Homo sapiens: one gene and its partner. The protein of the gene in region 1 interacts with the protein of each later gene in a biochemical or structural test. Each region holds a gene or a part of one and is shown on either strand. Other genes may lie near its edges.

What was found.
Region 2: of the proteins of USP15 (region 1) and CSNK1A1, one has a biochemical effect on the other in vitro, tested with the Homo sapiens proteins (one study listed by BioGRID).

What each region holds. Positions count from the first base shown.
Region 1 is NC_000012.12:62,410,260-62,413,998, forward strand, and holds part of USP15 (ubiquitin carboxyl-terminal hydrolase 15), read left to right. Parts: 3' UTR 1-3,739. UniProt on the Homo sapiens protein: Hydrolase that removes conjugated ubiquitin from target proteins and regulates various pathways such as the TGF-beta receptor signaling, NF-kappa-B and RNF41/NRDP1-PRKN pathways.
Region 2 is NC_000005.10:149,509,570-149,513,565, forward strand, and holds part of CSNK1A1 (casein kinase I isoform alpha), read right to left. Parts: intron 3,641-3,996; coding exon 3,501-3,640; intron 2,304-3,500; coding exon 2,225-2,303; intron 385-2,224; coding exon 310-384; intron 1-309.

The DNA.
Region 1 (3,739 bases):
CTAATAGAAGCACCAAGGATTATCTATTTGTAATCACATTGTGGTGAATTATCAGTCTCCCAAGAATTATGTAAAGCAAATAGGAATTATTTTAGAGTTGCCCTTATTTTAAAAAACAAAAAAAAAGTAAAGATGGGAAAATTACTTATAGTATTTTTTTTTAATTTGAGAAAGAATTCCTGTAGGTCTCCCTTAAATAGTGACTTTGGTAAAGCTTTTTAATTTCTAGAACTCAGAGCTATATTCACTTTTGAGCTATGTACCTATTGTATAAGTTGAAGTAATACTGCAAATTCAAACAGTAAACATCATTAATCCTAGATATTTGGGTACTACCTACAGTGAGATATGGTAGGAAACATTCTACACTTACAACAACTTCCACCATAGCTAGCTCCAAACAGGTCATTAACCTCTGAATTACTGTTTTCACAACCATAAAATTATGCTGGTCTCTTGAAAGTATTAGTTTATGGGTGTGGAGAGGAAGGCTTAAATTTCATTTTTGAAGCTGTCGTTAAAAGTATATATTTTTAGCAAAGGAATTAATAACTAATAGCATTGATGAGTCAAGTTAATATTTGTTTTTGTTTTTTTTTTTTTTTAATTTTGGGCCTCACTCCTATAAAAGACTTGGAACAGAAGTCTTAGTATGATGGTAAACTTGAAAATTAAAATTTTATCAGGGATATTAGAATCCAATTATATGAGACTGCATCCTCAACAGGCACCTTGGTTGCAACACCATGAAAGACCTTGATCCAGAGGTTCTCAGCAAGCCACACCTGAATTCCTAACCCACAAAAACTGTGAGATAACAGATGTTTGTGTTTTTAGCTGCTAAGCTTTAATTTGTTTATGCAGAAATAAGGGAAAAGGACCCTAGAGATCCTTGAGGAATCCCACTTTACAGATGTAGAAGCTGAGGGCTAGAAGGAGAAAAGTCATGTACACAAAGTCTGGAGACAACTCAGATAGTCACTACATCCTCTTGCTCTTTCTCATTTTTACTCTTTAACTGGCTCCTCACTTTTTAGATGGATGGCACTGGGCTCTGGAGCAAACCATCTGTTCTGTATCTGTTAAGGCCTCTAGAGCTTCATTCATTCCTTCATCAAATATTTTTTGAGTGTCCACTATGTGCCAGGCACTATTCTAGATTCAAGATATAAAGTAATATACAAAAACAAAATCCAGTTACAAATATAATTTTTAAAGCTATTTGTGAGCATAACTTCGTAACACATTTAGAACCTTTGCCTTCAGCTGACATGAATTATGTTGTCTTTTTGTTTTTTGGTCCAGTTTCATTAGTCATTAAAGTCATTTGAATTAAAGACAATAATCCAGACTCCAGAGGTTATGGCTTTTATGTGTTTGGATACTGTCATAGTCTGCTCAGGCTGCCATAACAAACACAGACTGGGTGGCTTAAATAACAGAAATTTATATTTTCACAGTTCTGGAGGCTGGGAATCTGAGATCAGGGTACCAGTATACTGGGTTTCTGGTGAGGGTGCCTTTCCTGGCTTACAGATGGCTGCCTTCTCACTGTGTTCTTGCATGGTAGCAGAGGAGGGTCAGAGAGGAGAGCAAGCTCTGAGGCATCTCTTTTTTATAAGGGCACTAATCCCGTCATGAAGCCCTCACCCTCATGACCTCATCTAAACCTAATTATCTCCTAAAGACTTCCTCTCCAAATACTATTTAAGGCTTCAACCTGAATTTGGAGGTGACACAGTTGAGCCCATAGCAGATATATTTAGTAACAACTGTGGGTACAGGCATGCCTCAGATATTGCAGGTTCGGTTCCCAGCCACCATAAATATTTAAATAAAGTGAGTCACAAATTTTTTGGTTTCCCAGTGCATATAAAAGGCATATTTACCCTATACTGTAGTCTATTAACTGCAATAACATTGTGCCTAAAAAAGATGTACATGCCTTAATTTTCAAACTATTGCCAAAAAATGCTAAATAACCATCAGAGCCTTCAGCAAGTAGTAATGTTTTTGCTGATGGACAGTCTTGCCTCATTTTGATAGATACTCACCAGGATGGTGGTTGCTGAAGGTTAGGGTGGCCGTGGCAATTTTTTACAATAAGACAGTAGTGAAGTTTGCTTCATCAATTGACTCTTCCTTTTACAAGAGATTTCTCTGGCATGCAGTGCTATTTGATAATATTTGATACCCACAGTAGAACTTCTTTCCGAACTTCTTTCACAATTGGAGTTAATCTTCTAAAGCCCCGCCACTGCTTCATCAACTAAGTTTATGGAATATTCTAAATCCTTTGTTGTCTTTTCAACAATGTTCACAGCATCTTCACCAGGAGAAGACTTTCCCCCCTTCTTTTCACAGATGTTGAGATTGTCAAGAAACTACTTTCCTTGCCCACCCATAAGAAGCAACTTATCATCTGTTCAAGTTTTATCATAAGATTGCAGCAATCCAGACACATCTTCAGGCTCCACTTGTAGTTCTCTTGCTATTTTCACCGCATCTGCAGTTACTGCCGCCACTGAGGTTTTGAACTTCTCAAAGTCATGAAAGTTGTAATTAACTTCTTTCAAACTCTTGTTAATGTTGATATTTTGACTCCCATGAATCACAAATATTCTGAATGAATGGCATCCAGAATAGCAAATCCTTTTCAGAAGGTTTTTATTTTGCCCAGATCCATCAGAGGAATCACTATCTATGAAAGCTTTTGCCTTATAAAATGTATTTCTTGGATGATAAGACTTGAAAGCTGAAGTTATTCTTTGATCTATGGCTGCAGAATGGATGTTGTGTTAGCAGGCAGAAAAACACTAATCTCATACATCTCCATAGAGCTCTTGGGTGACCAGGTGCACTTGTCAATGAGCAGTAATATTTTGAAAGGAATCTTTTTCTGAGCAATAGATCTCCGCAGTGGGCTTAAAATATTTAGTAAACCTTCCTATAAACGGATGTGCTACCATCCAGGCTTTATGGTTCCTTTTATAGAGCAAAAACATTATATTTAGTTTAATTTTAAGGACCCTAGGATTTTTGGAATGATAAATGAACATTAGTTAGCATTGCATTGGCCCCTAACAAGAAATCAGTCTCTCGTTTGAAGCCAAGCATCAACTTTTCTCTAGCTATGAAAGTCCTGGATGACATCTTCCAACATAAGACTTTCATCTACATTGAAAGTTTGTTTTTAGTGTAACTACCTTCATCAATGATCTTAGCTAGATCTTCTGGATAACTTGCTGTAGTTTCTACTTTAGCAGTTGCTGCTTCACCTTATGCTTGTCTGTTGTGGAGACAGCTTGTTTCCTTAAACTCCATGAATCAACCACTGCTAGCTTCAGACTTTTCTTCTGCAGCTTCCTTACCTTAGCCTCCATAGAATTGAAGAGAGAGGGCCTTGCTCTGCGTTAGGCTTTGGCTTAAGATAGTGTTGTGGCTGATTTGATCTATTAAAAAAAAAAAAACTCAGGCTTTCTCTATACCACTTTTCTTATGATTCATGTGTTCACTTGAGTAGCACTTTTAATTTCAGGAACTCTTCCTTTGGATATACAACTTGGCTGTTTGGCTCAAGAGGCCTAGCTTTCAGCTTGCCTTGGCTTTCAACATGCTTTCCTCACTAAGCTCCAATCATTTATAGCATTTGATTGAGAGAGAGAGAGAGATGTACAGCTCTTCACCTGAACATTTAGAGGCCATTGGATGGTTATTAACTGGCCTGGTTTTAATAGTG
Region 2 (3,996 bases), on another chromosome or scaffold:
TTTGTATTTTTGGTAGATAAGGTATTTCACCATGTTGCCCAGGCTGGTCTTGTGGAACTTCTGGGCTCAAGTGATCCGCCCACCTCGGCCTTCTAAAGTGCTGGGATTGCAGGCTTGAGCCACTGTGCCCAGCCGGATCATTTATCTATTAAGGTAGAAATGGGGTTTCCCTATGTTGCCCAGGCTGGTCTTGAACTCCTGGGCTCATGTGACCTACTGCCTTGGCCTCCCAAAGTGCTGGGATTACAGGTGTGAGCCATTGTGCCTGGCTTCATTTATATTTTTTTAATATTCATCATGCATACTTACCTTACATAAAACTTCAACAGGCGTGGACATCTTCTTTTCACTAATCTTTTCATATTTTTGTTTCTTTGTTGCAGCCTGTGGAAAAGAATAAAATAAAAAAGATATACTCAGTGCTACTGAGAAGAACCATGGTAGTTTAACGCACTAGACATATAAACATATACCTGTGAGATTCAAGAGAAATTTTAACCCAGAATTTAAAAAATCAAAGTATAATACATCTAAAAAAAATTTTTCCCAAACTGTTAACTTCTGATGTAAGTTTCTTCTCTAAGAATTTAATTTTAGCTATAGGGAAAGGGTGAGTCTAATAGGAATATATGGATATTAGATTTAAGTAAAAATGGCTGGGGCCAAAATTGAAAAGCATTTTCTTTCTTTCTATATATTTTTTTAAGGAGATGGGGTCTCACTATGTTGCCCAGGCTGGAGTGCAGTAGCCATTCACAGGCTCAGCAGTAATTCCCTGTGGCCTCCAACTCCTGGCCTCAAGCAATCCTCCTGATTCAGCCTATCAAGTAGCTGGGACTACAGGTGTGCATCATCATACCCAGCTGAAAAGCATTTTCTTTCCTTTTTCCTTTTCTTTGTTTTTTTGTTTGTTTGTTTGTTTTTTTGAGACAAGGTCTCCCTCGGTTGCCCAGGCTGGAGTGCAGTGGCTCGATTATAGCTCGCTGTAGCCTCGAACTCCTGGGCTCAAAGCAATCCTCCCGGCTCAGCCTCCTGAGTAATTGGGGCTACAGGCATGTGACACTACACCCTGCTATTTTTTTTTTTTAAAGTAGAGGTGAGGTCTTGCCATACTGACCAGGCTGGTCTTGAACTCCTGGGCTCAAGTGATCCGCCTGGCTGGGCCTCCCAAAGTGTTGAAGATTATAGGCATGAGCCACCATGCTCAGCCTGAAAAGCATTTTCTTAACCCATGTTCAACACAAGGGCAAAGGCATCAGATTAATACAAAAAAATTTGTTCATCAATTAGTGACATTAATAAATGGAGTTAACTGTATAAGTCACAATATTTTTCTAAACTAAAAATACTCATATTAGATAAAGCTACCCACCCAAGGACTGAGCACTACAACTAGCTCACAGCCACTCAATAAATACAGGTATTCCTTCAAAGAACTGGTAAGGTACCAAAATAGCCATTAAAATTTAGGACACACCAACAGTGGTGACTCACACCTGTAATCCCAGTTCTTTGGGATGCTGAAGCAGGAGAATCACTTGAGCCCAAGAGTTTGAGACCAGTCTGGGCAACACAGTGAGGCACTGTCTCTACAAAAAATAATTTAAAAATTAGCTGGGCATGGTGGCATGTTCCTGTAGTCCCAGCTACAGGTAGGAGGCTGAGATAGGAGGACTGCTTGAGCCCAGGAGGTTCAGGCTGCAGTGAGCCAGGCATTCCGGCTTGGGCAACAGAGCAAGACCATTCCCCATGCCCCCACCCCCACCCAAAATTAGGATACGGTGATTTATCATTAACATACACTCACAAAAGTAACAGTAAACTCCTAGCTAATAGAAACAAAATGTTAGGACATGTATTGCTGGATAAACAGGTCTTGCTGTACATAAAAACATACATTTTCAACATAATGGCAACACATCAAAATGAGAAAGTCTCCACCTTTCTTAGTCCATGCCCACTTCCATCTAGATAGAGCTAGTGGCTACCAGTGGGTACCAGCTTACTGTCTCTTAGAGGACACTGTTCTTCAGCTGAACTAAGTTCTTACTAAAATGATCTGGTTTCATTTTCCCAGATAAAAGGTAAAAAGTAAATTAAGGTTAATTCTTTATATCTCAGAAAAATCTCAGACTTAGAAGGGACCTTAAATCTTATCTTCTCCAATATATATTTTTATTCTAAAAAAGAGAGAGAAAAATCTGATAATGTGAGTCTGGTTTACCTTTAGCCCTTGCCATGGCAGGCTGGTTCTATTAAAATACATCAAAACATATCCTAATGATTCCATGTCATCTCGGCGACTAGAAAAGAGAACGTAATTTTATAAACTGGAACTATTATTATGAAAAAACATATGAAAGAAAGTCAAGTACCCAGAAGAAATGTTCCCAAATGAGGAGGGAACACTATTTGGTGTCTTACGCAAGAAGCTACTTATTTAAGGTGATTTTAAAAAGTTCATGTGTTACCTACCTCTAAACAAAACTTTTTCCATGGAATCCAAAATCTGACAAACAACTGTCTTACAATTTAATTTTAAAAGAACAGAAACGATTTGGCTAAACAACCCTCTAAATGAGCTTAATGAACCAAGCAGGATGACATTTCTATGTTTTGCAGAAACTCATTAAAAAAAAACTTCAGAAGTACTGAAAAGGAGTTACAACTTAAAACTAATTGAACATCTATATGAATGTATTCATGCATACATATCTATATACACATACATACAAATATATATTTAGATATATATATATTTAAGGATAGGTAATGCCTTGGCGTACAGAAAAAGTGACATTACAGTTTAACCTAGATCATTCAGATATTCATGGATATTTCTTAAGCCTGAAATTCTTGGTATGAGGTTCTTTAACCTGGAGGCATATCATTGTTTTTTCTACTTATTACTTCTATGCTAGTTTTAAGGAGCAAAAAGTGACTGTAAAAGATGAAAGGAACTCGAAACTCTAGAACTCATGTGAAGAAATAGGAAGAGAGCAGAGACTGTTACTTTTTTTACTTTAAACTAGATCCTATTAATTTATATATTTGAGTGAAGTATAACAGGAGATGGTCCATCAACCCACTTTTGGTTTATTAGGACACTGATAACATTTTCCTTTTAAAAATAAATAATGCATTCTTCCCAAACTCAGCGTGAATTACTAAAGTATAAAAAGCCCCAAATAGCTCTAAAAATATATGTACTATCTTCAGCTGCAAAAAGAAACGTCAACATTGCACTTATGCTTCTAACTTTCTATCACGCAGTATTTTCCCCCCAAGAGACAACCTTCAACAACAACAAAAAATCCAGAAGACCTCATTTAACGGTCTTCTCTACACTGGTTAAAGCAGCAGGTAAAATGATTAATAAGCATCCTTCAAATCCTCAGCCAAGAAACATCCTTAGACATTGTAAGAAACTAAAATATTTCAAAAACCCATTGATGGCTTCTGCTATGGCTATGATAAGCACATTCCATTTTCGAACTTACCTCTGCTCAATACCAAGATGTGCATTGATGCTAGCATATCGGGCAGTGCCAGTGAGGTTTTTATCTTCTCTGTATGGTATGTGTTGCCTTGTCCTGTTGTCTCTGTACTTTTTGGCCAAACCAAAATCAATAAGGAATAACTTTAAAAGAGAAATACAGAAACATTAGGTTTCCAACCTTGTTCAATTAAACTGCGTCTTATTCATTAAATGGTATCTATTCTATGCATTCAAATATATCAAAATAAAGTATCCTAAGTATTAATAGAACAGATAATGAACAGACTTAACACCCCCCCATAAGCTTTTACTAGTCTTCATCAATAAATCAAGTTAAAAAAAAAAAGTCTAGTAGTTTATCCTTGTCGTTTGCAGATTTCACAGGCCCATTTCATTACATACTCAGGAACCTGTCTTTATAAAGAAAGAAATGTATACATGCTTGACAGCAGAAGCAACAAGTGTGCTATCTGTCATAATGACACCTGATAGTCTGT